Linked DNA regions of Homo sapiens: region 1 is linked to region 2. The links come from fine-mapping of genetic effects on gene expression. A gene starts in region 2. The other region holds a variant in brackets. All regions are shown on one strand. Distances are from middle to middle. Region 1 holds the start of MIR4298 (microRNA 4298). Region 2 holds the start of PRADX (PRC2 and DDX5 associated lncRNA).

What was found. PIP is the estimated chance that this variant, and not a neighbour inherited with it, causes the effect.
Region 1: its variant is the best candidate, but not a certain one, in a credible set for the expression of PRADX in whole blood (INTERVAL, PIP 0.57).

What each region holds. Positions count from the first base shown.
Region 1 is chr11:1,857,069-1,861,452 of GRCh38, forward strand. All of the region lies in intron 1 of LSP1 (lymphocyte specific protein 1), which reads left to right. It overlaps MIR4298 (microRNA 4298), which reads right to left and starts at 2,468; the gene lies at 2,396-2,468. The variant C/T (reference allele first, on the strand shown) is at 1,646.
Region 2 is chr11:1,758,345-1,762,669 of GRCh38, forward strand. PRADX (PRC2 and DDX5 associated lncRNA) reads left to right here and starts at 2,004. Exons shown (of 2, transcript NR_182291.1): 1 at 2,004-2,850; 2 at 2,975-4,142. CTSD (cathepsin D) reads right to left here. Exons shown (of 9, transcript NM_001909.5): 2 at 2,965-3,124; 3 at 1,172-1,295; 4 at 625-743.

The DNA of each region.
Region 1 (4,384 bases), 99 kb after region 2:
GTAAGGGGTCTGAGGCATCTGGAAGTTTCCCAGGGAAGCAGAAGGATGTCTTCTTCCTCGTGGGCTGGCAGGCGCTGCTGTCCACCGACACCCAGCTGGGCTGGTCGCACAAGTGGGAGCATCACAGGCCCCACCCCCGCTGATTCTGGAAGCCAGAATCCTTTCTTCCTGCGCCCCCTTCCTGGTTCCCTCGTGTCTCCTAAAACAATCCTGGAGCCACACAAGGGCAGTGCCAGGAGGGTCTGGGGTCCAGCTGGGACAGGCCCTGGCCGGTGACACCCTGGGGTGGCAGGATGGTGGGCCTCTGCTCCGCTACCCTACGGGCCAGCCTGTCTCCACCTCAGTTCCCTGAGAACGTGCCAGAGGGATGGGTGAGCCCTAGAGAAGAGGAGGGTGTTGGCAGTGGAAAGGGCCCAGTGGTCTCCCGCTCTGAGTCCTCAGCCTGGTGAGGGGTGGGGGCGTGAGCTCTGCCTTGCAGTCCCAGCCCCTGAGATCCCACTGCTGGGGCGGCGGGAGGGGGATGGGCTGCAAGGCCCCAGGGCTGGCCTTGCTTCGGCTGCTATAGGCCCTCGGAGTGCTTTCTGGATGAGTAAGCCGCACCCCTCTGAAGCCTCAGTTTCCCCATCTGCACACTCAGAATGTAGCCACTCAGACCAAGCGTTCACTCCATGCCAGTCTTTGCCAAGCTATTTATTTATTTATTTGAGACAGAGTCTCGCTCTGTTGCCCAGACTGTAGTGCAGTGACACAATCTCGGCTCACTGGAACCTCCGCCCTCCAGGTTCAAGAGATTCTCCCACCTCAGCCTCCTGAGTAGCTGGGATTACAGGCACCTGCCACTGCCCCCGGCTAATTTTTGTATTTTTAGTAGAGAAGAGGCTTTCACCATGTTGGCCAGGCTGGTCTTGAACTCCTGACCTCAGGTGATCCACCCGCCCCAGCCTCCCAAAGTCCTGGGATTACAAGCATGAACCACCGCGCCCTGCCTTTGCCAAGCTTTTTAAACCAAGGCTCTTGTTTCATCCCCCGGAGCTGTGAGGCAGGTCCCTGGAGCCTCCCATTTCACAGACGGAAACCGAGGCTCACAGGGGCCAAGTGCATTGTCCAAGGGCTGCTCCCTGCCTGGGGAGGGGCCTGAGTCCTTGCCCCTGTGGGGTTCGGGTGCTGAGGGCCCACAAGACCTGCGGGCACCAGGAGGGAGCTGGGCTGGGCTGCCCTTCCCGGGGTCTCTCTGACCCCACACCACACACCAGCCACTCTGGACTCAAAGGCTCCCAAGAGCACCAGAGCACTGCTCATGGCCCAAGCTCAGCAAGCACTTAAAGGGACCGTCCCGAAAAGCGGAACTGGGACCGGGCGCTGCAGGACCAGCAAGGTCCTCCACTTCCCTCCAGCCCAGCCCCGCCCAAATCCCAGCCCTCAGCATCTTTTTGGGGGCCACTAAAGACCTTCTGGGAGATGGCAGCCCAGGACCATAAGGCAATCGAAGAGGGCTTTCCACATGCGCTGAGGCAGACAGAACCAGGCCCTGGCTGTGGACGAGGCTGTATTGATACTTAGAAGAGAGGGAAGCGAGCGGGCTGGAGAGGCTCGGCCAGGGGGCAGCCCAGCAGGGCCCCTTCCCCAGGGTTAGACTCTCTACAGC[C/T]GGCCCAGCCCCCATCCCCTCCCCAACATCTAGGGACCTGAAAAGAGGTTGGAGGGGCTGCATGGGGGTGGGGTTGATAGGAGATTAGGGGATTGAGAAAGCCAGGCCTCCTAGCCGTGTCCCACCCAGCACGGCCCCACCAGTGCCAGACACAGGCAGACAAGGGAGGAGGGAGATGCTGAGCAGGGGTGGCAGGAGGAAAGCCCCTGGCCCTTTCTTGGGGCCAGGCAAGTCCTATCCTAACTCCATCTGCTAACTGCCTCCAAGCTGCTTGTGGGTTGTCGGGGAAGGGAGTTTGTGGCAGGGAGGGCCTCTGAGTCCCCTGTATCCCCCGGCAGGAGGAGGCAGGCACATGGGCCCCTGACCTCAGTGCTTGGAGCAGGGCCGCTCTGGTGGGGCATTTGTAGGTCACAGCATGAAGGGTTCCAGCATACTTCCTGGGTTCCCAGTTTCCCTGGGAGCAGTGGTATAGACGCAGGGGCCTCTACACACACCACACGCTCAGGGAGAGTGGCTGAGGTGTCCAGGATACTCTGTCCACTGGGGCAGGGGGTGGCTTCTAAGCCCAGTACCCTTCCCAGAGTCCCCAGTCTCCAGCTGCTCATGGGCTGCAGATGAGGATTCAAGGTTATGCAGGGGTCACTCTCCTGCTCCATCCCTGGCAGGTGGGACCTCACCTACTGCTTCTTTCTGCTCCAGAGAAGAGCACGTCCCCCTCATCTCAAAAGTGCCTGTGCTCCTCCTTCCTGAGTGGAACCTACACTTTTGACAGTTTGGTTTCTGAGGCAAGGCTGCCTCCTCCTCCTGTCCCAGGTACCTCCCCTCAGAAAAGCAATGGGACTTGGGATAGAAGGATCTAGCCAATTCGTTCCAGATGAATCTAGAAATAATCCTTTAGCCTTTCTCTTAGACCCAGTCCCAACCAAAATCTGAGCTTCATCACCACCACCCAGCACCCACCATTCACCACCCAGCCTCCAGCCCCCAGCCCCCAGCCCCCAGCCCCCAGCACCCATGACCCACCACCCTGCCCCCTACCCGTGGCTCTGGCCCATTCTCCTGCTGTCAGCAGTGCCTGCTTGAACAGAGGGCCACACTGAACAGATGCATGCTGCAAGCATTTGGAGGCTGCCTCCTCTTTAAATCACAGACATTTATCCACCAGGGATCACTCGGGAGCCAATGAGGCCACCACCCTGACCTCCCCTGTCCCCATGGGCTCTCTCAGTGCTCAAAGCACCTTTCACTGGGATGCTGCTCTGTGAACATACATTCGCAGGTATGTGTCGGGGATGATGAGAATGTGTCAATATGAAGACAGATCCCTGCCCCTGTAGCCCCTGCTTAGGCTCTATTGAGGTGTTCAGCCTCCTGGGCCATGGTGGTCTGCTTTATCCTTGGGCCATGAGCTTATGAACCATGTCTTAGTTGCATAAGAAAGGAAAAATAAAGATTAGAAAAGAATCAATTATGGAGAACAGTATGAATGAATGGAAAGATGAATGAAGAATGATAGGAAGTAGGAACAAATGGATGGATGGATGGATGGATAATTGAATGATGGATGGATGGATAATTGAATGATGGATGGATGGGTGGATGGATGGAGGGATGAGTGGATGGATAGGTGCATGGATCGATGGACAGGTGGGTGAATGGATGGGCAGATGGATGGGGTGGATGAATGAATGGGTTGGATGGACTCATGTATAAATAGAGTATAACTCATGCATAAATAGAAAGAATTATTTAGTAATTGATGAATGGATGAACAAATGAGCAGATGAACAAAAAATAGATGGATGGACAGAAGAACATCTGTATGTATATATGGATGTTTGGATGAAAGAACGAATGGATGGGTGGATAGATAAATGCAGATGTGATATTTAGAATATTTAACAAAGCATGTGGTACAAATATGAATCTACTGGAATGGGTGCTGATTATATATATTCCTATATTGAACTGTGTTGTACCTGTGCATATTGGCTGATCATCAGCCCAACAGCTAAATGAGCAAATGTACCAAAACAAAAGATGAGTGGATTTATGGATGAATGGATGATGGATGAATGGGTGTATAAATGGGTAAATGAATGTATTGATGGAAGGACACATGAGATGGAATTATGTATGGGTGGATGATTGGATGGCTGGAATATGGACATATAAATGATTGGAAAGATTAATAGAAGGATGTCAGGAGAAGTAGACATATGGATGGATATGGATAATAGATGAATAGATGGATACGTGGGTGGATATAACAAGAGATGAGTAGAAAGATAGATAGATAATGAATCAATAGACAATTGAATCCGTGCTGAGTAAACTATTAGAAAGACGGATGTGTGAGTAGACACTACTAAATCAGGAATTTTGCACTCTCTTCCAGGAACACTTCCTCCCATTTCTCTCATCTCTTTTCAAATAAGAAAAGAATTACTTCTTTCCATGAGGCTTTCATATATAAAGACCCAAGGAAAGAATTACTTATTTCCATGAGGCTATCATACGTAAAATATCAATCCCCTCCAGAACTCCATATGCCTTTACCCTGATTTATATTTTCTGTCATATTTTCCATCATCTGACCTTTATTTATTTATGTGTTTGTTCCCACACTTGAAACATGATCATCATAAGAGCAGGGACTTTGTTAATGCTGAATCCCCAGCACCTTCAAAGTGTCTGAATTCAGTACAGATTTATTGAATAAATATATGGAAGGATGGA
Region 2 (4,325 bases):
TTGTGGCCTGGTCCACCCCCAGCAGACAGCTCCGAGGTGAGAACTCACTGAGGCCCAGGCAGGGTGACAAGGGCCAGCTCACCCTCTCCTAGGGCAGGGAGTTGCTCTGCACAGGGCCCTGAGGATGGTGGATGCAGGCGGGGCCCCCAACAGCCACTGCTGCTCCCCCTCCCTTGCCCTCCCAGGCTCCTGCCGGTGACTCTCCGCCAGCAGCCCCCACAGCGGGTTCCTGGTACATCCTCCCAACCCCAAGCCTCCCCAAGCCCTCGGCCTGCTGCAGGGACCCTGTGCAGCCCCAGGTCCAGCCCTCAACACCTGCTGGCACCTCAAACCCAATGTGCCAAAAAGAGCCCGATCGATCTGCCCTGTCCTCCCTCCCACTCATTGTGGCCTGACTCCGGGGACCCCTGCCCCTGTACCCCCTGGGTTTGAGGCTGTCCCTCCAGCCTGCACACAACCAGGCCCATTCCCAGACCCCTCCTCACCCTGCTGACTGCCCCGGCCACCTGAGGGCTGGGGTTGGGCTGGGATCACCGAGCCCTCCCTTTCAACCACATACCCACGGTGGGTGAACCCCACACCCTGGCACCCTCGAGTCCTGGGAAAGGCCCCAGAGGGACTCACCGACACAGTGTCCTGGCTCAGGTACCCGGAGAGGCTGCCCGAGCCATAGTGGATGTCAAACGAGGTACCATTCTTCACGTAGGTGCTGGACTTGTCGCTGTTGTACTTGTGGTGGATCCCTGCCCCGGGCGACAAGGGGGCCCGCCGGTCATCCCGCAGCCCACGCCACGGCCTTAGCCCTCCCATCCCCCTACAATCTACCATGGAGCCCGCACCCCCCAAGCTGCCTCCCCAGGGTGGGATTTGGAGGGGATCTGAGGCCCACCATCATGCCAGAGCCCCGGGACTGTGGGCTGTGACCCCGGGCCTCCCTCCCAGCCACAGCCGGCTCCCTCTGTGGCCACCCCAGCCCCAGCCCTGCTGAGAGCAAGACCACAGCTGGTGGTTCACCCAGAAAGTCAGTGGCTGGAGCAGGGTGGAGGGCTGGCCTGGCTCACGGGGCCAAGAGGCAGGAGAATTGCGTTGCCCAAGTGATTCCTGAGGCAGCCCTGCAGCGACATCCCGGAAGGGCAGGACCTGGGCGACGGGGCCAGGGTTCGTGACTCACAGCAAGCGATGTCCAGCAGTTTGCAGTGGATGGAGGGGACCCACAGGTTGGAGGAGCCCGTGTCGAAGACGACTGTGAAGCACTGGGGGGGCGTCCCGATGCCAATCTCCCCGTAGTACTGGGCCTGGCAGGGGACAGGGTCCGTCAGGGATGGGAGAGGGGGCCCCATCTCCCCACTGGGCCTCAGAAGGCCCGGCTGTCCCCAGAGCCAAGGCCCATACTGGAGGGAGGGGCATCACGGGGCCCACAGCTGCCAACAGCCACCCACTCCCACCTGCTCAGCCTGCAGGGAAGATGGGCCAGGTCCCCAGCCCTCGGTCCTAATGCCCACGGGTACTTGGGGTCTCTAGACCCCTGGCTTCTGTCACCTACCCCTGCTCAATACATGGTGAGGCTGAGGACTTCCCCACGGAAAAGACAAGGCCAGAGGTCAAGCCAGGGTGGGGACAGACGTGGCCCTCAGCCTGAGCCCCGGGTGCAGGAAAGCCCGGCCTGGAAGACTCCCCTGGTGGCCCGCAGTCCAAGGTCTGAGAAAGGAAGTGACTTCCTCCCCAGGTTGGGGCCATGTCAAGGTCTGATTCTGGGTGTCTCAGTGCCTGCCCTGCCCTCCAGGGTGAACCCCAGGCTTGGAGGGCTTCCAGGCAGAGGGGTTCAGCTGGTCAAGGGGAGAAGGTAAGCCTTACAATCACTGCCTGCCCAGCAACCCTGCCTTAATGGCCCAGGGCCTCAGTTTCCCCGTGTGTACACAGGGATAGCAGGCGCAGGTGGGGGTGCTGACTCAGGGATCAGGCAAGTACAAGGGGTCCCATGCCGCCGAGCCTCTCAGGAGGCAGAGAGTAAGAGGGTCCTGGAGTTTGGGGTCGCCTGGGCGCCCGCTTCCCCCAGGATTGGAGCCTGGGCCACCGTCAGCCACCAGATTCCTGGCACCAGCCCAGCCCAATGTTTCTCCAACCGCCTGGCTTCACGGAGCAGCAGCAGCTGCTGACTCATGGCCCCACAGAAGTGACCACTGGCAGGGGGACACTCAGCAAATTTCCATGTGTGTGTGTGCATGTGTGCGCATGCGTGCATCTGCTTGCTCGCGCGCTAGGACAATCAGGAACTGGCCAGTCGGGACCAGGCACACGGCGCCTGGTTCCCCCCAGGGCCCCCCTGGCCCAGTCACATGCCTGTGAGTCTTGGGCTTCCTGTCACAGCCAGGACTCGGGCCAAGCAGGACAGAGGGCAAGGCTCCCCCACAGTGGGCCAGAGCCCCGAGGCTGGACAGTAGGCCCTGGCCTCGAACTGACCCCATAGAGCTGGGACCAGGCTGACCAAGCCCCAGCTTGCTAGGTGGCTTCCAGAGTGCTCCACCTTGGATCCTGCTTCCCCCTGAAGGAGTAGTGGGCACAGGAGGGGCTGTTGCGAGAGGAAGAAGATGGGGAGGGGCTGGGGAGGCCACGAGTCACCACAGGCCTCCCAGCAGGACAGCAGTGAAAGGCTCCAGGTCAGCCGGCCACACTCAGGCAGGCCCAAGGACCGCCCCCTCAGGCGAGCTGGCACCAAGGCCCGAGGCCACTCCCAATCACCCTCCCAGGCCCTAGCAGGACCAAGACCCTGCAATGACAGGGGCCAGTGGCAGGAGGTTCCAGAATGGGGAAGAAAGGAGTGTGGCTGAGCCGGGACGCCACCGTGGCCAGGTGAGCCACTCAAACTGCGCTGCTGAGAACAGGAGGTGGGAATGTTCCCCATACTGCCACGGAGCTCTCCTGACAGTGGCTCCGCTTGCAGCAGGGCTAAGACCTCATACTCACGTCCATGTAGTTCTTGAGCACCTCGGGAATGGGCCCCTCGGTCACGGCTGGCACCGCCTGGGAGTACTTTGAGACGGGGCCTTTGGCAATCAGGTCCTCCACAGAGCCCCCAACCTCCGACATGGTCCGGCGGATGGACGTGAACTTGTGCAGCGGGATCCTGTCAACCACGGGTCGGGGCATATCAGGGAGGCCCTCCCGCCTGCCGGCCGACGCTGCCAATGCTGCACATCCACCTGGAGGCCCCTGGGGAATCTCAGAGTCGCCACAGCCAAAACCAAACTCCTGCCTGTCACCTGGAAACTGCTGGCCCAGCTCCCCCAAGTCAGTGAATGGCAACCCATTGCCCCCCGCCAGGTTGCACAGGCCACAGTCCTAAGAAGTGGTCACCCGCCACCCACCTCAGCCCCACACACCCAACCTGGGGGCCAGTGTGCCCAACCCTCCTCTCCTCAGCCATTCTGGAGGCTCCAAAGCCCCCAAGGGTCTCCCGTCCTCCCTCTGCACCTGCGCTGGTCTCTTCCAGGATGGTGGCCAGCATGGCTGCTCAGGGTGCTGGCGGGTACCTGTCACTCCTGCCCAAAGTGCTCTGAGGCAGCCCACTGTACCCAGCCCCCATCACACCTGCTCTCCACCCCCAGACACCTGCACGAAGGTGGCCCCACCTCCAGGCTGGCACTGGCAGCTCTGCCTGGCCTCCTCTGGCCATCAGATGGGCCCTCCACACCACCTCCAGAAGCCCTCCTTGACTACCTGTCCTCCTCCACATGGACCCTGTGGCTGCCCAGTGCCCTCATCCCACATCTGTTTCTGGGCATCCGCACCTCTCCTCACTCCATGCGGCTCCACGAGGTCCAGGACTGCACCTGGGGCCTTAGAGGCTTCTGTGCTGCCCCCCCCACCGCCCTGCCTCCTCCGACAGCTGCACTCAGGGTACCCCTCCAGAGTCCTGTCACCCAGCACACCGCCAGCCAGGGTGCAGGAGGGAGCTCCAGACTGAGATCGGGGTCCTGAGTTCTAAACCCAGGAAGCGAGTAAGAGAGAGAGGGGTCCCTGCTCCTCCCCCAGGGCCACTGGCCTTCCCCTTGGTGTGAACCCACTCCTTGTTCCAAGGAAGCTCCCCTGGGCTTTTAATCACTTAAATAAAACCTCTTCCCTGCCCCAGGGACTTGAGAGTACAAGGTCATAGCTGGCTTTTCCTGGCTTGTCAGGGGCGTGATCCCGGAAGATGAGATTATTGCCTAAGAGCTGGTGGGCTGGAAGAGCTCCAGGTTTTGTCCTGGGGGAGGGACACGCCCTCCAGGGACCAGGAAGCAGGTGTAATAGTATCAGTCGCACAAGAGCTGGAATCGGGTGAGGGC